2 separate regions of the Homo sapiens genome follow, and region 2 is linked to region 1. A link means that fine-mapping ties the variant in region 1 to the plasma level of a protein whose gene starts in the linked region. Region 1 holds a variant in brackets. A gene starts in the other region. All regions are shown on their forward strands. Region 1 overlaps TERT (telomerase reverse transcriptase). Region 2 holds the start of KLRB1 (killer cell lectin like receptor B1).

The links. PIP is the chance, under the fine-mapping model, that this variant and not a neighbour inherited with it causes the effect. Protein levels are from antibody-based Olink assays in UK Biobank. Linkage for the fine-mapping came from a reference panel and not from the study's own genotypes, which makes the PIPs less certain.
Region 2: it holds the start of KLRB1, and the variant in region 1 is fine-mapped to the plasma level of the KLRB1 protein (UK Biobank, PIP above 0.99).

What each region holds. Positions count from the first base shown.
Region 1 is chr5:1,282,843-1,292,746 of GRCh38, forward strand. All of the region lies in intron 2 of TERT (telomerase reverse transcriptase), which reads right to left. Among named protein-coding and RNA genes, the nearest start is that of TERT, 7.3 kb to the right of the region's middle. RefSeq lists enhancers at 3,632-4,878, 7,652-8,403, 8,404-9,154. The variant G/A (reference allele first, on the strand shown) is at 4,237.
Region 2 is chr12:9,601,916-9,614,388 of GRCh38, forward strand. KLRB1 (killer cell lectin like receptor B1) reads right to left here and starts at 6,001. Exons shown (of 6, transcript NM_002258.3): 1 at 5,840-6,001. The coding sequence starts at 5,924.

The DNA of each region.
Region 1 (9,904 bases):
TCACCGAGGGCCTGGCGAACTCACCCCGGACCTGCAGCATCCAGACACCACACATCCAGCTCACCGCAGGGCCTGGCGAACTCACCCCGGACCTGCACCATCCAGACAACACACATACAGCCCACCGCAGGGCCTGGCGACCTCACTCCGGACCTGCACCATCCGTACACTGCACATCCAGCTCACCGCAGGGCCTGGCGACCTCACGCCAGACCTGCACCATCCGGATACAGCACATCCAGCTCACCGCAGGGCCTGGCGACCTCACCCCGGACCTGCACCATCCGGATACAGCACATCCAGCTCACAGCAGGGCCTGGCGACCTCACCCCAGACCTGCACCATCCGGACACCACACATCCAGCTAACCGCAGGGCCTGGTGACCTCACCCCGGACCTGCACCATCCGACACCGCATATCCAGCTAACCGCAGGGCCTGGCGACCTCACGCCAGACCTGCACCATCCGGATACAGCACATCCAGCTCACTGCAGGGCCTGGCGACCTCACCCCGGACCTGCACCATCTGGATACAGCACATCCAGCTCACAGCAGGGCCTGGCGACCTCACCCCGGACCTGCACCATCCAGACACCGCACATCCAGCTAACCGCAGGGCCTGGTGACCTCACCCCGGACCTGCACCATCCGGACACCGCATATCCAGCTAACCGCAGGGCCTGGCGACCTCACCCCGGACCTGCACCATCCGGACACCCCACATCCAGCTCACCGAAGGCCTTGGCTACCTCACCCCGGACCTGCACCATCCAGACACCGCACATCCAGCTCACAGCAGGGCCTGGCGACCTCACGCCGGACCTGCACCATCCGGACACCACACATCCAGCCCACCAAGGGCCTGGCGACCTCACCCCAGACATGCACCATGCAGACACCGCACATCCAGCTCACCAAAGGCCTGGCGACCTCACCCCAGACCTGCACCATCCGGACACGGCACATCCAGCCCACCAAGGGCCTAGCGACCTCACCCTGGACCTGCACCATCCGGACACGGGGACACCGCACATCCAGCTCACCGAGGGCCTGGCGAACTCACCCCGGACCTGCAGCAACCGGACACTGCACAACCAGCTCACCGCAGGGCCTGGTGACCTCACCCCAGACCTGCACCATCCGGATACAGCACATCCAGCTCACAGCAGGGCCTGGCGACCTCACCCCGGACCTGCACCATCCGGATACAGCACATCCAGCTCACAGCAGGGCCTGGCAACCTCACCCCGGACCTGCATCATCCGGACTCCATACCTCCAGCTCACCGAGGGCCTGGCGACCACACCCCAGACCTGCACCATCCAGACGCCGCACATCCAGCTCACAGCAGGGCCTGGCGACCTCACCCCGGACCTGCATCATCCGGACTCCATACCTCCAGCTCACCGAGGGCCTGGCGACCACACCCCAGACCTGCACCATCCAGACGCCGCACATCCAGCTCACAGCAGGGCCTGGCGACCTCACCCCGGACCTGCATCATCCGGACTCCATACCTCCAGCTCACCGAGGGCCTGGAGACCTCACCCCTGACCTGCACCATCCGGACACCGCATATCCAGCTCACAGCAGGGTCTGGCGACCTCACCCCGGACCGGCACCATCCGGACTCCATACATCCAGCTCACCGAGGGCCTGGCGACCTCACTCCAGACCTGCACCATCCAGACACCGCACATCCAGCTCACCGCAGGGTCTGGCGACCTCACCCCGGACCTGCACCATCTGGACACTGCACATCCAGCTCACCGAGGGCCTGGCGACCTCACTCCAGACCTGCACCATCCAGACACCACACATCCAGCTCACAGCAGGGCCTGGCGACCTCACCCCAGACCTGCACCATCCAGACACCACACATCCAGCTCACAGCAGGGCCTGGTGACCTCACACCGGACCTGCAGCATCCGGACACCCCACATCCAACTCACAGCAGGGCCTGGCAACCTCACCCCAGACCTGCACCATCCGGACACCGCATATCCAGCTCACCGCACGGTCTGGCACCGTCTGGCGACCTCACTCCAGACCTGCACCATCCAGACACCGCACACCCAGCTCACCGCAGGGCCTGGTGACCTCACCCCAGACCTGCACCATCCAGACACCACACATCCAGCTCACAGCAGGGCCTGGCGACCTCACCCCGGACCTGCATCATCCGGACTCCATACCTCCAGCTCACCGAGGGCCTGGAGACCTCACCCCTGACCTGCACCATCCAGACACCACACATCCAGCTCACAGCAGGGCCTGGCGACCTCACCCCGGACCTGCATCATCCGGACTCCATACCTCCAGCTCACCGAGGGCCTGGAGACCTCACCCCTGACCTGCACCATCCAGACACCACACATCCAGCTCACAGCAGGGCCTGGCGACCTCATCCCAGACGTGCACCATCCGGACACTGCACATCCAGCTCACTGAGGGCCTGGCGACCTCATCCCGGACCTGCACCATCTGGTACAACAGCCATGGCCATGGGAAGCCCAGCAGGTCCAGGCCGAGATGGCCACGCACGGGACCTACACACGGGATCCCGCAGACAAAGCTCAAAAAATGTCAAATGTCCTGTGAGTGATGCTCCCACCAATAACACCCTAAAATGATGAGGTGTGGACATGCTGGGCTTCAGTAAAATCTATTATTACATTAATTTCACCTTTTCTTTTTTACTTTTTTAATGTGGCTACTAGAATTTTTTTTTTTTTTTTTTTTTTTGAGACAGAGTCTCGCTGTGTTGCCAGGCTGGAGTGCAGTGGTGCAATGTCGGCTCACTGCAACTTCCAACTCCCAGGTTCAAGCAATTCTCCTGCCTCAGCCTCCCGAGTAGCTGGGATTACAGGCACCCGCCACCACGCCCAGCTAATTTTTGTGTTTTTAGTACAGATGGGGTTTCATCATGTTGGCCAGGATGGTCTCGACCTCCTGACCTCGTGATCCACCCGCCTTGGCCTCCCAAAGTGCTGGGATTACAGGCGTGAGCCACCGCGCCCAGCCTAGAAATTTTAAAATTATCCACATGGCTCACGTCATGCTCCTGTTGGGCGACAACGGCTCGGAGCCTCATCCTTTGTCCTGGTTCCCAAGCAGAAGGGAGGAAGCAGACACTCCCCCGCCAGGCAGCACCGTCAGAGCTGGCGCCACACCGCAGGTTTGCGCGATTTCAAACTCGACACCGCGGAGCCACCAGACCCCGACATGCCTGGGGTTTTCCAGGCTGAACCCAGGCCGAGCGGACGTTGCTGTCACTCACTGGCTAAGGAACGCTGGCCACGTGGTGCTCCAGACACTCACGGGCCAAGATGACCGCCCTCCTCGTGAGTCTCCACATCTTCATCTGTGCATCATAAGCAGAGGTCCCCGGACGTCGCTAGATGCCATGGAGGCCAGCACAGGTAAAGCTGGGGTTTACCAGCAATAACAAGACAGAAGAACCACGCAAAGGACAAGGAAGGGGACCCCAGACGGCGGGCCTGAGACAGAAGACAGACGGGGAACAAAGGAGGAAAAGCAGGGCGGGGGCAAAGCTACAGAAACACTCAACACGGAAAACAATATTAATAATGCTTAGCTTGTGGGGGTGTCAAGATGCCTGAGATAGAACTAAGTCAGCAGGGAAAACAGCACACAGGCTGGGGGGTGGCCAGAGCTAAAATACACTAAGGGTCTTATTGCTCAGGACAAGGGTAGCAATGTTTCAGACTTCATTTTAAAAGATCAAGGTATGCCGGGCACGGTGGCTTGCACCTGTAATCCCAGCACTGTGGGAGGCCAAGGCGGGCAGATCACTTGAGGTCAGGAGTTTGAGACCAGCCTGGCCAACATGGTGAAAGCCTATCTCTACTAAAAATACAAAAATTAGCCAGGCGTGGTGGTGGGCGCCTGTAATCCCAGCTACTCATGAGGTTGAGGAATGAGAACTGCTTGAACCGAGGAGGCAGAGGTTGCAGTGAGCCGAGATTGTGCCATTACACTCCAGCCTGGGTGACAGAGTGAGACTGTCTCAATAAACAAAAGCAAACAACGACAATAAAAAGATCAGGGGGTAACACTAAGCAAAGAGAAATAAAAGCAAATGCCCAGTGACCAGGAGGCAACGAGAGGATCAACACACACTCGGCAGGAAACGCACATGGCAACCCAAGAGGTGGTGAGAAACAAGGGAACGAGGACATGCAACAGGCAAGTGGAGAATCAGAGTGCACCAG[G/A]CGGGTCTCTAGTGACAAAAAAATGAAAATAAATCAGGTTATCCAGTTAAACAACGACTGTCAGACTGGATTGGAAATTCACCTACATGCTGTTAACAGGACATACCCACACTATAAGAATATAAAAGTGTTGAAAATTAGGCCAGACATGGTGGCTCATGCCTGTAATTCAGCACTTTGGGAAGCCGAGGTAGATGGATCCCTTGAGTCCAAGAGTTTGAGACCAGCCTGGGCAACACAGCAAGACCCTGTCTCCAGAAAAAATTTAAAAATTAGCCAGGTGTAGCGGTGCGTGTCTGCAGTTCCAGCTATTCAGGAGGCTGAGGTGAGAGGACGGCTCAGGCCAGAAGGTAAAAGTTACACTGACCTGTGATCACACCACTGCACTCACCCTGGGCGACAGACCAAGACTCTGTCTCAAAAAAAAAAAATATATATATATATATATAAATTAAAGGCAGAAAACAGACACAGCAGGAAAATACTAATCAAAAGAAGCCCAGTGTGGCAGTACTAAGAGCAATTTAAAAAAAGAATTACTAGATTACTAGAGACATAGAAGTCTCCAAAAGATTCACTCATCAGGAAGATAAAAATTCTACCACGTGCATGCACCTAACAATGCCTCACATAAATGCTACCAAACGAGAAGAAATGAACAGACCCATCCCCCAGGTGAGGGACTATGGCCTCCTTCTTGGAATTTCATGCATCTAGAAGGAGACAGAAGCTTTGCACTGGACCTTAATAAGCTGGATATAGTGAACATGCATGCCCACTATTGACAGGATGTCAAATTTACAATGGACAGTTCTGGAAACCATGCACACACTAGATCACAAAGCAAGGCTCCGCAAACTTCAAATAATTGGTATTATACAGACCACTACACAACTGAGTTAGAAATCAATAATAAAATGATAACTTAAAATACTCTACGTATCTTGATACTCTACATATCTTGAACATAAACAGTGTTCAAATAACTCACTGCTCAAAGAAATCACAGAATAAGCTAAAGAATACTTAAAAGTCACTGATATCAAAATGATTTCACGTCAAAACACAGCGTGCACAAAGAAAAAAATCACAGAATAAGAATACTTAAAAGAAGTATTAACACTTTGAAGTATTTTAAGAACACTTGAAAGTGGCTGATGTTGAGATTACTTCACATCAAAACACAGGGTGCAGGTAAGGCAGCACTTAGAGGGAAAGGCATGACTAAACTAAGAAGCTAGAAAAGGAATGAAAGAATAAACCAAGAAAAAGCATACAATGGAGAGATAGAAACGTCAGAGGTAAATCAGTGAAATTCAAAACTAAGACCCAAGAGGGAAGTCTGACGAAGGCTGGCGGAGACACCGGCCCTCCACGTGGGTCTCAGAGCAGGAGACAGACAGAGACACTCCAACCTGTGGCTGGACGTCAATCCATGTGAGGGGGCGACTGGAGGCAGAGCCCAGCCTAAGCAATGAGCGGCAGGTGCCCAGAATAAGGTGACAAGCGTTGCCACCCACCCAAGGGGGCCAAGCAGAGGGGCAGCTTGGGAGAAAACAGGACAAGTGAGGGGGCTGGGGTGACTTGCTTTCCTTCAGGGCACAGAGAACCCTTTCTGGGATGTCTCCAGCAACACGTGGCAGCAGACACAGGCAGCCCAGAGTCCAGCCTCGGCATGAGACAAGCTGGGAGAGGAGTATTGGCAGCATGCATGTGGCGGGCACGTGGTGAGCAAGCCAGGCCCAACAGAGGCAAGCGGACCTGAAGCTGTGGCTGCAGTGCCTGGCACGCGGGAGGCGAGAGCCTGCAGTCCCGTGTCCCCGTAGCAAAATGGAACGGAGAGGTGACCAAGAAGAGCCGAGCATCAGAAAAGATAGGCTTGGGGACCAGCACTGCGCCTGCACCATCTACCCAGGCAATGGGCAACCGGCGCAGCTGTGGCTATAGAAAGAGCAAACATTCAGGAGCAAGCTCAAGTGAGCAAACGCCAAGGACACCTGGGGACAGAGCCTCACTCACCCTACACGAGACAGGGACACCCAGGGACAGCGCCTCACTCACCCTGCACCTGAGAGGGACACCCGGGGGCCGCAACTCACTCACCCTACACGTGACAGGGACACCCGGGGACGGCGCCTCACTCACCCTACACGTGACAGGGACACCCGGGGATGGCGCCTCACTCACCCTACACCTGAGAGGGACACCCAGGGACGGCGCCTCACTCACCCTACACGTGACAGAGACACCCGGGGACAGTGCCTCACTCACCCTACACGTGACAGGGACACCCGGGGACGGGGCCTCACTCACCCTGCACGTGACAGGGACACCCGGGGACGGCGCCTCACTCACCCTACACGTGACAGGGACACCCGGGGACGGCGCCTCACTCACCCTACACGTGACAGGGACACCCGGGGACGGCGCCTCACTCACCCTACACGTGACAGGGACACCCGGGGACGGCGCCTCACTCACCCTACACGTGACAGGGACACCCGGGGACGGCGCCTCACTCACCCTGCACGTGACAGGGACACGCGGGGACGGCGCCTCACTCACCCTGCACGTGACAGGGACACCCGGGGGCCTCGCGTCAATCACCCTGCACGTGACAGGGACACCCGGGGACGGCGCCTCACTCACCCTGCACGTGACAGGGACACCCGGGGACAGTGCCTCATTCACCCTACACGTGACAGGGACACCCGGGGACCGCGCCTCACTCACCCTGAACGTGACAGGGACACCCGGGGACAGTGCCTCACTCACCCTGCAAGTGACAGGGACACCCGGGGGCCGCGCCTCACTCACCCTGCACGTGACAGGGACACCCGGGGGCCGTGCCTCACTCACCCTGCACGTGACAGGGACACCCGGGGGCCGCGCCTCACTCACCCTGCACGTGACAGGGACACCCGGGGGCCGCGCCTCACTCACCCTGCACGTGACAGGGACACCCGGGGGCCGCGCCTCACTCACCCTACACGTGACAGGGACACCCGGGGGCCGCGCCTCACTCACCCTGCACGTGACAGGGACACCCGGGGGCCGCGCCTCACTCACCCTACACGTGACAGGGACACCCGGGGACAGTGCCTCACTCACCCTACACGTGACAGTGACACCCGGGGACCGCGCCTCACTCACCCTACACGTGACAGGGACACCCGGGGGCCGTGCCTCACTCACCCTGAACGTGACAGGGACACCCGGGGACGGCGCCTCACTCACCCTACACGTGACAGGGACACCCGGGGACGGCACCTCACTCACCCTACACGTGACAGGGACACCCGGGGACGGCGCCTCACTCACCCTGCACGTGACAGGGACACGCGGGGACGGCGCCTCACTCACCCTGCACGTGACAGGGACACCCGGGGGCCTCGCGTCAATCACCCTGCACGTGACAGGGACACCCGGGGACAGCGCCTCACTCACCCTGCACGTGACAGGGACACCCGGGGACGGTGCCTCACTCACCCTACACGTGACAGGGACACCCGGGGACCGCGCCTCACTCACCCTGAACGTGACAGGGACACCCGGGGACAGTGCCTCACTCACCCTACACGGGACAGGGACACCCGGGGACCGTGCCTCACTCACCCTGCACGTGACAGGGACACCCGGGGACCGCGCCTCACTCACCCTGCACGTGACAGGGACACCCGGGGACCGCGCCTCACTCACCCTGCACGTGACAGGGACACCCGGGGACCGCGCCTCACTCACCCTGCACGTGACAGGGACACCCGGGGGCCGCGCCTCACTCACCCTGCACGTGACAGGGACACCCGGGGGCCGCGCCTCACTCACCCTGCACGTGACAGGGACACCCGGGGGCCGTGCCTCACTCACCCTGCACGTGACAGGGACACCCGGGGACGGCGCCTCACTCACCCTGCACGGGACAGGGACACCTGGGGACCGCGCCTCACTCACCCTGCACGGGACAGGGACACCCGGGGACAGTGCCTCACTCACCCTACACGTGACAGGGACACCTGGGGACCGCGCCTCACTCACCCTGCACGTGACAGGGACACCCGGGGACAGTGCCTCACTCACCCTATACCTGGGAGGGACACCCAGGGACGGTGCCTCACTCACCCTACACGTGACAGGGACACCTGGGGCCGCGCCTCACTCACCCTACACCTGAGAGGGACACCCGGGGACAGCGCCTCACTCACCCTACACCTGGGAGGGACACCCAGGGACGGTGCCTCACTCACCCTACACGTGACAGGGACACCCGGGGACCGCGCCTCACTCACCCTGCACGTGACAGGGACACCCGGGGACAGCGCCTCACTCACCCTGCACGGGACAGGGACACCCGGGGACCACGCCTCACTCACCCTACACGTGACAGGGACACCCGGGGACGGCGCCTCACTCACCCTACACCTGAGAGGGACACCCGGGGACAGTGCCTCACTCACCCTACACGTGACAGGGACACCCGGGGACCGCGCCTCACTCACCCTGCACGTGACAGGGACACCCGGGGACAGTGCCTCACTCACCCTGCACGGGACAGGGACACCCGGGGGCCACACCTCAATCACGCTGCACGGGACAGGGACACCCGGGGGCCGCGCCTCACTCACCCTACACGTGACAGGGACACCTGGGGGCAACGCCTCACTCACCCTGCACGTGACAGGGACACCCGGGGACCACGCCTCACTCCCTGCATAAGCCAGGGGCAGATTGTGACCTCATCTGAAGTCAGAGAACAGCAATGACAGGCAGAGTCCTGATCAGAGAACTCAAACTCTCCTCAACGAAGGAAGCTGGAGCACAAAAAGCAAAACTGGGTTGCATGACGCTTATCTGACTCGGCGTGGTCCACCTGAGCCGCAGCAGGTGTGAGGCAGCTGCCGTTCGATGGGTAGGGACTTCCAGTCACGCAAGACGCAGCATTTCAAGCAACCTGCTGTAAACACCGCCGAGTTAGCAATTCTGCACTGTACACAGAAAACGGTGTTAGGAGTGCCAATCTCATGTTATATGACTTTTGCCACCATAAAAAGAAAAAAAGAAAAAAAAGAGCCCCAAGAAGGTCACCCTCCTTGTCTGCATGGCCGGAAGTCTTACATGTCTTGGGAGTTTGTGGGGAGGGGGTGAAATCGGGACTTCTTCTAGCTGCCACGGTAGGGCCTGGGAGCACTGGGAGCCAAAAGGGGGCTGGAGCGGAGGTTCCTCAACATCAAATCCAGAAAAACAGGGTGGGGACACGGCAGGGCCCAGCAGCACCATCCCCTGAACACCCACAAACACTGTCCCTTCCTCAGCAGGTGGAGCCATCTGCTGTCCTCTGCTCCCATGTGGCCCTCTTCATACCTAAAGATGGGACCAGGATCTGTGCTGGAGAACAGTCTTATCTCCCTCCCTCTACCCTGTCCTGGCACAATCAACGAACACTTTTTTTTTTTAAAGACAGAGTTTCACTCTTGTCGCCCAGGCTGGAGTACAATGGCACAATCTCAGCTCACTGCAGCCTCCGCCTCCTGGGTTCAAGTGATTCTCCTGCCTCAGCCTCCCAAGTAGCTGGGATTACAGGCACACACCACCATGCCCAGCTAATTTTTGTATTTTTAGTACAGATAGGGTTTCACCATGTTGGTCAGGCTGGTCTCAAACTCCTGACCTC
Region 2 (12,473 bases), not on the chromosome of region 1:
ATACAAAAATTAAGTGCATGTCTTAATGTATGAAGTAAGTCAAAGCATTTTGTCCAAGAAGGAAGACCTTCATTTAGTCAAGATATTTTTTGAGGCTCTCTCTATTTTGTGCCAAGTACCATGTTAGGTGCTGGTGGTATACAGAAATTCTATTCTTGGACATGGAATCCTCTGCTTTGCTGTTGTCTAGAACAATCATCTCCAAGTTGGGTCTAAGCCAACTTGGGATCCCAAGCCATCAAGGGATAAGGTTTTGTGACTGCATACCTTTTTCAATATTATCACTAGTATAACATAACATGCGCTTATGTCTACAACATCGCATAGTCTAAACCAAGTGTCAGATATCTCTGCTTTTCTCTGTAATCACATCAATTACTATATAATGAATCTCCCATGTTCTTCAAAAGTTATGATTATATTGATGAAATGTTATAAATTAATCGCAACTTTATCAATGTATTTTGCTCTGTATCTTTGAAAACATGAATTAATAGAAAAAAAATAAAGAGAGATTTATAAAAATATTTTGGAGAAACACTGGGATATAGCTTCCAAAATTAAATCAACTCTGATAAGGAATTATTCTGGTAGTATATTGCTCAGTTACACTGCTAGAAGTTGTGCCTAAATAGCTCCCCTATCTCTGATTTAATTGTAAGTCTCCCTCTGCTCTCATTTGGTTTTTAACATATTAGATATATTATAATTATAAATTACTTTATAAATTCTATTATTAGAGCTAGGAGCTTTTATGAATAAAGGCTTTCTAATTTATCTGAAGCTATTGATTTATTTGTATTGTCTATTCCTTTTTATTTTTTCTAATATTATTCCATGTAAGTGATTACTTGCTATGAGTTACATGTTAAAAAATTTAGCATCAGATATACTATAATATTATCCTTTAGTCTCTTTATATGTTTCAGAACGGCCATGAAGCCATTTCTACTTTTAATGGTACAGTATCCTTGAGGATTAAGTTGTGCAGTCCAGTTTGCAGACCTGATAATCTCTCACATTAGGATGCTCACACTGATATAAGTGAATCAGCTCTCTCTAAAACGGCCCTGAGGAGATAGAATTTAGTAGCGTTAGATGTGATCAAAGATTATGGGAGGAACCATAATACACTGGGGTCAGGGTTGTAACATATGGATTATCGTCTGGTACTATTTAGGACATGCTGTATCAGTGGAGGGGGGCAGGGAGGAGTAGATACCTAGAGGAGACTCCAAGGCCCCAGGGATATATCTGAATGTGAGGAAACCAAGCTTGGTAATATTGGCCTAGAACTTCTAATGAGAGCTGGTGTGATACAAGAATGTCTACATGCAGTCAATAAGCCCAAGACAGCACTGGCATGGCTTTCCTTCCAGTTTTATATATGTACGTTATTTCACCTTTCTGTCTCTTCTCTTCCCCACCGTTTTCTTCCTTGAAACTCTAAGTTTGTTTGTCTAGTGGAGAAAGCTCTGTATAGTCACTATTTTAAGTGTTAACTTAATTCTATTTATTTATTTATTTATTTTTGAGACGGAGTTTCACTCTTGTTGCCCAGGCTCATGGTGCAATCTCAGCTCACCGCAACCTCCGCCTCCCAGGTTCAAGCAATTCTCTTGCCTCAACCTCCCGAGTAGCTGGGATTACAGGCATGCGCCACCATGCCCGGCTAATTTTGTATTTTTTTTTTTTTTTTTTAGTAGAGACGGGTTTCTCCATGTTGGTCAGGCTGGTCTCGAACTCCCAACCTCAGGTGATCCACCCGCCTCAGCCTCCCAAAGTGCTGGGATTACATACGTGAGCCACCGCACCCAGCCTAATTCTATTACTAACATGAATTTAGTAATTTTCATTACTAAAGGCTAACATTGATTAAGAACAGTCTTTCCGATCTAGCAAATCTGAATGTGAACATGTTATTTTGGAAAATACGTTCAACCTTCATAACCCACAGATTTCCTCATCTGTGAAATGTGGAATATTATCTATGTCATAATATTTTGGAGAGGATTATATGAAACAATTCTTCTAAATGCTGGGCACAGTGTCTGGCACATGGTAACTGTTCAATGAACAGCAGTTCTTTTTTTCTAAAAGTTGTTTTTTTTTTTTAACTATAGGTAAAAGGCAACTTGGTGACTTTTAAAAATCGTTATTCATTCATGCTAAAATGTAAGGAGTTGAGTGGAGTGTACTGTGTCTGGGAGGAATGTACTCCTGTACTGTGTTTCTGTGGCACCACGTGACATTAGAATTAATGAAGTTACAATGAATCACTACAGGGGTCCGGCGGACGTTAGCTATCTGGAAATACCTACCTATGGCTGTTCTCCATTTGAGTTTAAAAAGTATGTGAAATCATCTCATTTCATTATTCTAAACCTTCCAATGGCTTTTCATCAGGCAAATCTGAGTCTGTAGAATGGCTCATATGTCCCTATTTAAGCTGGCGCCCACTTCTGTTGGATGTTATCACTCACATCTCTCTGGTTTTGTTGACTGCCTTAGACACAATCACCATGCTACAGAGTGACCATAGCCTCAACAGTTTAGCCAGAGTCCAATAGTGGTTTCACATTTTGCCCTCACCCCATCTGGCCTCCATACGCTCACTCTCCACGCAGATGCCTCCTACAATACCACAGGCGTGTTTTCATTTCGATGTGTTTGCACTTGTTGGTCACCTTCCTAGAAGGCTTCTCTCTCAGGGGCTTATGTCTTTGTCCCTCACTTCTGTCAGGTTTTGACTCAATGTCATCTTCTCAGGGAGGCCTTCCTTGATTATTCTGTTTGATATGCTACCCTCCCCGAAAGTTAAATCCTATATTCAAATCTTTCTCAATAACATTAACACCGTCTCATCTTTTATACTGACTTAGTTATTTGTTTATTTTATTGATGGTGTGCCTCCATTTTTTTAATTTTTATTTTTTATTATACTTTAAGTTCTAGGGTACATGGGCACAATGTGCAGGTTTGTTACATATGTATACATGTGCCATGTTGGTTTGTTGCACCCGTTAACTCGTCATTTACATTAGGTATTTCTCCTAGTGCTATCCCTTCTCCCTACCCCCACCCCACAACAGGCCCTGGTGTGTGATGTTCCCTGCCCTGTGTCCATGTGTTCTCATTGTTCAATTCCCACTATGAGTGAGAATATGCGGTGTTTGGCTTTCTGTCCTTGTGATAGTTTGCTCAGAATGATGGTTTCCAGCCTCATCCATGTCCCTACAAAGGACATGAAATCATCCTTTTTTATGGCTGCACAGTATTCCATGGTGTATATGTGCCACATTTTCTCAATCCAGTCTATCAATGATGGACATTTGGGTTGGTTCCAAGTCTTTGCTATTGTGAATGCTGCCGCAATAAACATACGTGTGCATGTGTCTTTATAGCAGCATGATTTATTATCCTTTGAGTATATACCCAGTAGTGGGATCACTGGGTCAAATGGTATTTCTAGCTCTAGATCCTTAAGGAATCGCCATACTGTCTTCCACAAGTGTGCCTCTATTTTACTATAAACTCTATGAAGGAAAATAATTTTCTCTATTTTGTTCACTGCTGTATTCACAGCATGCCTGGTGCAGAGTAGGAGCTTATTTTTTAATGAATGAATAAACTCTAGGGGCATTTTTGCAAACACCTTATCCACTTTTCTAACAGACCAAACCCTTGGCCATTTGGCCATAAGCAAGATCGGTTATCACTCACATCTCTCCTTCTGGTTTTGTTGACTGCCTTAGACACAATCACCGTGCTTGCTACAGAGTGACCACAGCCTCAGCAGTTTAGCCAGAGACCAATAGTGGTTTTACTGTCATTCAATATCAGACCAGTGTTCTATAGTCACATATTTTGCTCTGGCTTTATTCTACTCTTATTTTTTCTTCAGGTTTACTCTCAGAATGACATTTTATAGGATAATTATTACAATCCAAGTAGAAAAAATTTCTGCATCCATTGGTTTGGGATCATAGCAACATTTGGGAAGAGTCTCACTACCTCTATATTCATTTTCTGACAAAAGCCCACTTTCCACCTTTTGCTAGATATGAATAGAGGAAAAGAAAGACTTACTCTTTTCTTTAAAAAAAAATGTTACTCAACCAAATCCTCCCTATAGTTATTAGAACCCTCTGATTTCCTCTACTCTTATGTGAAAATTATACTGAAACTTAATTGACGGCTCTAAGACTTTCTTCTTGACTTAAAACTTTGAGAATTCAATAGTTTAAAACTTAAACAGTCTTAAAACAGCACAAGTCAAATGCTTGGCATGACATGGAATGAATATCAGATTGGTAAACAATTGTAATATTATCAATGATAGTAAATTCAGTTAGATATCAGAAAATAATAATGTGTCATAATAATTTCATGCTGATTTTCTGCCTCAGTTTCTAGTTTCTTCCCATCCATCCACAGGCCATGCTATCCATCATGTGTTACCTCACATTGGTGTTCCCCGCTTCTTTCACTCAGAATGCTAACTCTTCAGAGACACAGGAAAGTGCCAGTTTCAACAAATGGTAAGTAGGTTCGTTACTGATATGCTCGAGTATTTTTGTGGCTTGTCTCTTTCTAAGCTGTGATACTTTTCAAACTAGAAACTATCAGGTAGTAATGATATTCAAATCTTTGATCTTGAATATGATTTTTTTTCCAGAAAGTGTTCCCCTCTCTTGAGAGAGTGAAGTATGTTACTCATTAAGCCTACACTTTATATATATATATATAAAATATATAAAATATATGTATAAAAAGTATATATATATATATAAAATATATAAAATATATGTATAAAAAGTATATATATATATATATATATATATATTTTTTTTTTTTTTTTGAGATAGTCTTGCTGTGTCACCCAGGCTGGAGTACAGTGGCACAATTACAGCTCACTGCAGCCTTGATCTCTTGGGCTCAAGCAATCCTCTCACCTCAGCCTCCCGAGTAGCTAGGACCACAGGCACGTGCCCCACACTTGGCTATTTTTTTGTATTGTTTGTAGAGATGAGGTTTTGCCACATTGCCCAGGCTGGCCTTAAACTCCTGGACTCAAGCAAATCACCTTAGCCTACCAAAGTGTTGGGATTACAGGCATGAGCCACTGCAACTGGCCTACACGTTGTATTCTGAAAGGAATATTATGGATGAAAATGCACTGGGACTTAATCATAGTATTGATATTTTGTAGAGGAATTTGGAATAACGTAGGTTGTTATTACAGCAAGTTTGCAATGTGTCTTAAATATTCCTTAGTTCATACATGTAAAATATTTTTCCTTCCTTCCTTCCATCCTTCCTTCCTTCCTCCTTCTCTTTTTCTTTCTTTCCTTTCCTTTCTCTCTCTTTCTTTTTCTTTCTCTCCTTTCTTTCTTTCTTCTTTTCTTTCTCTTTCTTTCCTTTCTTTCTTTCTTTCTTCCTTTCTTTCTTTCTTTCTTTCTTTCTTTCTTTCTTTCTTTCTTTCTTTCTTTTCTTTCTTTCTTTCTTTCTTCCTTCTTTCCATCCCTGTAGAGCAGGGGTAACCAATAGGCAGTGTGCCCAGGGTAGCCTAAAGTGTTCAGAGTCTTTTAACCAAGGCTCAGTAAGACAAGTGATGTTTGCTTTTCATGCTAACTTGATTGAAAAAAATAAATGTATGAGGTTTAAATTTTTTTTCCCAAAGTTGTGATTATCTACAGGCAAGCCATGCAACACCCGTTAAACATTAATATAAAACTACTGCTCATCTTTAAAGCAATGATTTAAAGCCATAAATGTAACAGGAAGATCTAATTCTGGAAGACATACAAATGCCGAAAGGAAAATTAAAGCCACTTACCCCGAGGAAGAGATGAAGGTGAAGAACTTTCTGGGCCTGAGTCTGTGGGTAAGTTTAACTCAGCATATATTGCTTGTTGGTCCATGGCAGACAGAGGAAGGTGGCATTAAACTTGTGTGTAAGAACAAACTCTCAATTCTGTGAGGCAAAATCAGCAAAAGGAAGCTTTCTGCCTGCAGTACTTTGTTGTCTCTCTTTTGTCCCCACCCACATACACTTTTTGTTGGTGGTTATCTCCATAAATTACTGAGACAATCCACTGACTGCATGTTCATTATACCTAGCTATGTAATATCTACTTTCCTTAATTAACTGGCCTGTTGTTTGAGAAAATTCTGGGAGGCTCATTTGTTCTTGTTTTTCTAACCATCCCTTTTGTGTTCCTCTCTCAGGGCCAGGACCAGAGTGAAGCAAATGAGGCATAGCCTGGGGTTCCAATTTAAGGGGCCCCCAACAAAACTCACTAATTAACAGAAATAATATTTAGCACAATTTTGTAAAAGTAAAAATTAATGCAAAAAAGTCCATAATGCTATTCAAAGGCTCTAAAATCTTCCTGAAATATCTGTGCTCCAAAGAAAGTTGTGAAATGTGAAAAATGGAAACATAAATGTGAGAAAGCCCCCTGAATAACACAACAGAAAAAGCAATGTGCTAAAGATCAGTAGCCTACTGTTAGCTTAGCTCTAAAGGCACTCTTGGATATGATAGCATTTTCACATAAGTAAAAGTATTTGGAAACTGCCAGAATTGTAGGAAGTGGAGTATATGGAATTTTTTATCTCTTTGAAAGACTTTCTTTTTTTTTCAAGGTGATTATAGTATGTGTCTACTTTTTTTTTTTTACCTTTTTTTATTATTATTATACTTTAAGTTCACAATGTACAGGTTTGTTACATATGTATACATGTGCCATGTTGGTGTGCTGCACCCGTTAACTTGTCATTTACATTAGGTATATCTCCTAATGCTATCCCTCCCCCCTCCCCCCACCCCACGACAGGCCCCGGTGTGTGGTGTTCCCCTCCCTGTGTCCAAATATTCTCATTGTTCAATTCCAACCTATGAGTGAGAACATGCGGTGTTTGGTTTTCTGTCCTTGCAATAGTTTGCTCAGAATGATGGTTTCCAGCTTCATCCATGTCCCTACAAAGGACATGAACTCATCCTTTTTTATGGCTGCATACTATTCCATGGTGCATATGTGCCATATATTCTTAATCCAGTCTATCATTGATAGACATTTGGGATGGTTCACGAGTCTTTGCTATTGTGAATAGTGCCACAATAAACATATGTGTGCATGTGTCTTTATAGCAGCGTGATTTATAATCCTTTGGGTATATACCCAGTAATGAGATGGCTGGGTCAAATTCTAGTTCTAGTCCCTCGAGGAATCGCCACACTGTCTTCCACAATGGTTGAACTAGTTTAGAGTCCCACCAACAGTGTAAAAGTGTTCCTATTTCTCCACATCCTCTCCAGCACCTGTTTTTTCCTGACTTTTTAATGACTGTCATTCTAACTGGTGTGAGATGGTATCTCATTGTGGTTTAGATTTGCATTTCTCTGATGGCCAGTGATGATGAGCATTTTTTCATGTGTCTGTTGCCTGCATAAATGTTTTCTTTTGAGAAGTGTCTGTTCATATCCTTTGCCCATTTTTTGATGGGGTTGGTTGATTTTTTCTTGTAAATTTATGTAAGTTCTTTGTAGATTCTGGATATTAGCCGTTTGTCAGATGGGTAGATTGTAAAAATTTTCTCCCATTCTGTAGGTTGTCTGTTCACTCTGATGGTAGTTTCTTTTGCTGTGCAGAAGCTCTTTAATTTAGTTAGATCCCATTGGTCAATTTTGGCTTTTGTTGCCATTGTTATTGGTGTTTTAGTCATGAAGTCCTTCCCATGCCTGTTGCCTGAATGGTATTGCCTAGGTTTTCTTCTAGGGTTTTTATGGTTTTAGATCTAACATTTAAGTTTTTAATCCATCTTGAATTAATTTTTTATAAGGTGTAAGGAAGGGATCCAGTTTCAGCTTTCTATATATGGCTAGCCAGTTTTCCCAGCACCATTTATTAAATAGGGAATCCTTTCCCCATTTCTCGTTTTTGTCAGATTTGTCAAAGATCAGATGGTTGTAGATATGTGGTATTATTTCCGGGGGCTCTGTTCTGTTCCATTGGTCTATATCTCTGTTTTGGTACCAGTACCATGTTGTTTTGGTTGCTGTTGCCTTGGAGTATAGTTTGAAGTCAGGTAGCGTGATGCCTCCAGCTTTGTTCTTTTGACTTAGGTTTGTCTTGGCAATGTGGGACCTTTTTTGGTTCCATATGAACTTTAAAGTAGTTTTTTCCAATTCTGTGAAGAAAGTCATTGGTAGCTTGATGGGGATGGCATTGAATCTATAAATTACCTTGGGCAGTATGGCCATATTCACAATACTGATTCTTCCTATCCGTAAGCATAGAATGATCTTCCATTTATTTGTGTCCTCTTTTATTTCATTGAGCAGTGGTTTGTATTTCTCCTTGAAGAGGTCCTTCACCTCTTTCAAAGATTTTCAGGCATAGAACCTTAGAGCAAGACCTTAGGTGGATTGGGTTCCAAGATGGCCAAATAGGAACAGCTCCAGTCTATAGCTCCCAGCGTGAGCGACACAGAAGATTGGTGATTTCTGCATTTCCAACTGAGGTACTGGGTTCATCTCACTGGGGCTTGGCAGACAGTGGGGACAGCCCATGGTGCAGGGTGGGGCATTGCCTCACCAAGGAAGCGCAAGGGATTGGGGAATTCCCTTTCCTAGCCAAGGGAAGCTATGACAGACGGTACCTGGAAAATCAGGACACTCCCACCCTAATACTGCACTTTTCCAATGGTCTTAGCAAATGGCACACCAGGAGATTATATCCCATGCCTGGCTCGGAGGGTCCCATGCCCACAGAGCCTTGCTCACTGCTAGCACATCAGTCTGAGATCAAACTGCAAGGTGGCAGCGAGGCTACGGGAGGGGCATCCACCATTGCTGAGGCTTGAGCAGGTAAACAAAGCTGCCAGGAAGCTCAAACTGGGTGGAGCCCACTGCAGCTCAAGGAGGCCTGCCTGCCTCTGTCGACTCCACCTCTGAGGGCAGGGCATAGCTGAACAAAATGCAGAAGAAACTTCTGCAGACTTAAACATCCCTGTCTGACAGCGTGGGAGAGAGTAGTGGTTCTCTGAGCATGGAGTTTGAGATCTGAGAACAGACAGACTGCCTCCTCTAGTGGGTCCCTGAGCCCGAGTAGCCTAACTGGGAGACACCTCCCAGTAGGAGCTGACTGACACCTCATACAGCCAGGTGTCCCTCTGAGATGAAGCTTCCAGAGGAAGGATCAGGCAGCAACATTTGCCGTACTGCAATATTTGCTGTTCTGCAGTCTCCACTGGTGATACCCAGGCAAACAGGGACTGGAGTGCACCTCCAGCAGCCTCCAGCAGACCTGCAGCTGAGGGTCCTGACTGTAAGAAGGAAAACGAACAAACAGAAAGGACATCCAAACCAAAACACCATCTGTGTGTCACCATCATCAAAGACCAATGGTAGATAAAATCACAAAGATGGGGAGAAACCAGAGCAGAAAAGCCAAAAATTCTAAAAATCAGAGTGCCTCTTCTCCTCAAAAGGAATGCAGCTCCTCACCAGCAACAGAACAAAGCTGCATGGAGAATGACTTTGATGAGTTGAGAGAAGATGGCTTCAGGCGATTGGTAATAACAAACTTCTCCGAGCTAAAGGAGGAGTTCGAACCCATCGCAAAGAAGCTAAAAACCTTGAAAAAAGATTAGACAAATGGCTAACTAGAATAAACAGTGTAGAGAAGACCTTAAACGACCTGATGGAGCTGAAAACCATGGCACGAGAACTACATGATGCATGCACAAGATTCAGTAGCCAATTTGATCAAGTGGAAGAAAGGGTGTCAGGGATTGAAGATCAAATGAATGAAATGAAGCCAGAAGAGAAGTTTAGAGAAAAAAGAGTAAAAAGAAATGAATGAAGCCTCCAAGAAATGTGGGACTATGTGAAAAGACCAAATCTATGTCTGACTGGTGTACCTGAAAGTGATGGGAAGAATGGAACCAAGTTGGAAAACACTCTTCAGGATATTATCCAGAACTTCCCCAACATAGCAAGGCAGGCCAACATTCAAATTCAGGAAATACAGAGAATACCACAAAGATAATCGTCAAGAAGAGCAACTCTAAGACACATAATTTTCAGATTCATCAAAGTTGAAATGAAGGAAAAAATGTTAAGGGCAGCCAGAGAGAAAGGTCAGGTTACCCACAAAGGGAAGCCCATCAGACTAACAGCGGATCTCTCGGCAGAAACTCTACAAGCCAGAAGAGAGTGGGGGCCAATATTCAACATTCTTAAAGAAAAGAATTTCATATCAACCCTGAATTTCATATCCAGCCAAACTAAGCTTCATAAGTGAAGGAGAAATAAAATCCTTTACAGACAAACAAATGCTGAAAGATTTTGTCACCACCAGGCCTGCCTTACAAGAGCTCCTGAAGGAAGCCGTAAACATGGAAAGGAACAACCAGGACCAGCCACTGCAAAAACATGCCAAGTTGTAAAGACCGTTAATGCTAGGAAGAAACTGCATCAACTAATGAGCAAAATAACCAGCTAACATCATAATGACAGGATCAAATTCACACATAACAGTATTAACCTTAAATGTAAATGGGCTAAATGCTCCAATTAAAAGACACAGACTGGCAAATTGGATAAAGAGTCAAGACCCATCATTGTGCTGTGTTCAGGAGATCCATTTACCTGCAGAGACACACATAGGCTCAAAATAAAGGGATGGAGGAAGATCTACCAATCAAATGGAAAACAGAAAAAAGCAAGGGTTGCAATCCTAGTCTCTGATAAAACAGACTTTAAACCAACAAAGATCAAAAGAGACAAAGAAGGCCATTACATAATGGTAAAGCGATCAATTCAACAAGAAGAGCTAACTATCATAAATATATATGCACCCAAAAACAGGAGCACCCAGATTCATAAAGCAAGCCCTTAGAGACCTACAAAGAGACTTAGACTCCCACACAATAATAATGGGAGACTTTAACACCCCACTGTCAACATTAGACAGATCAATGAGACAGAAAGTTAACAAGGATATCCAGGAATTGAACTCAGCTCTGCACCAAGCAGAACTAATAGACATCTACAGAACTCTCCGCCTCAAATAAACAGAATATACATTCTTCTCAGCACCACATCGCACTTATTCCAAAATTGACCACATAGTTGGAAGTAAAGCACTCTTTAGCAAATGTAAAAGAACAGAAATTATAACAAACTGTCTCTCAGACCACAGGGCAAACTAGAACTCAGGATTAAGAAACTCGCTCAACTACATGGAAACTGAACGACCTGCTCCTGAATGACTACTGGGTACACAACGAAATGAAGGCAGAAATAAAGATGTTCTTTGAAACCAAGGAGAACAAAGACACAACATACCGGAATCTCTGGGACACATTTAAAGCAATGTGTAGAGGGAAATTTATAGCACTAAATGCCCACAAGAGAAAGCAGGAAAGATCTAAAACCGACACCCTAACATCACAATTAGAAGAACTAGAGAAGCAAGAGCAAACACATTCAAAAGCTAGCAGAAGGCAAGAAATAACTAAGATCAGAGCAGAACTGAAGGAGATAGAGACACAACAAAACCCTTCAAAAAATCAATGAATCCAGGAGCTGGTTTTTTGAAAAGATCAACAAAATTGATAGACAGCTAGCAAGACTAATAAAGAAGAAAAGAGAGAAGAATCAAATAGACTCAATAAAAAATGATAAAGGGGATATCACCACTGAGCCCACAGAAATACAAACTACCATCAGAGAATACTATAAACACCTCTATGCAAATAAACTAGAAAATCTAGAAGAAATGGATAAATTCCTGGACACATACACCCTCCCAAGACTAAACCAGAAAGAAGTTGAATCCATGAATAGACCAATAACAGGCTCTAAAATTGAGGCAATAATTAATAGCCTACCAACCGAAAAAAGTCCAGGACCAGACAGATTCACAGTCACATTCTACCAGAGGTACAAAGAGGAGCTGGTACCATTCCTCCTGGAACTATTCCAATCAATAGAAAAAGAGAGAATCCTCCCTAACTCATTTCAGGAGGCCAGCATCATCCTGATACCAAAGCCTGGCAGAGACACAACAAAAAAAGAGAATTTTAGACCAATATCCCTGATGAACATCGATGCAAAAATTCTCTATAAAATACTGGCACACCAAATCCAGCAGCACATCAAAAAGCTTATCCACCATGATCAAGTTGGCCTCATCCCTGGGATGCAAGGCTGGTCCAACATACACAAATCGATAAACGTAATCCATCATAGAAACAGAACCAAAGACAAAAACCACATGATTATCTCAATAGATGCAGAAAAGGCCTTTGACAAAATTCAACAGCCCTTCATGCTAAAAACTCTCAATAAACTAGGTATTGATGGGACGTACCTCAAAATAATAAGAGCTATCTATGACAAACCCACAGCCAATATCATACTGAATGGGCAAAAACTGGAAGCATTCCCTTTGAAAACT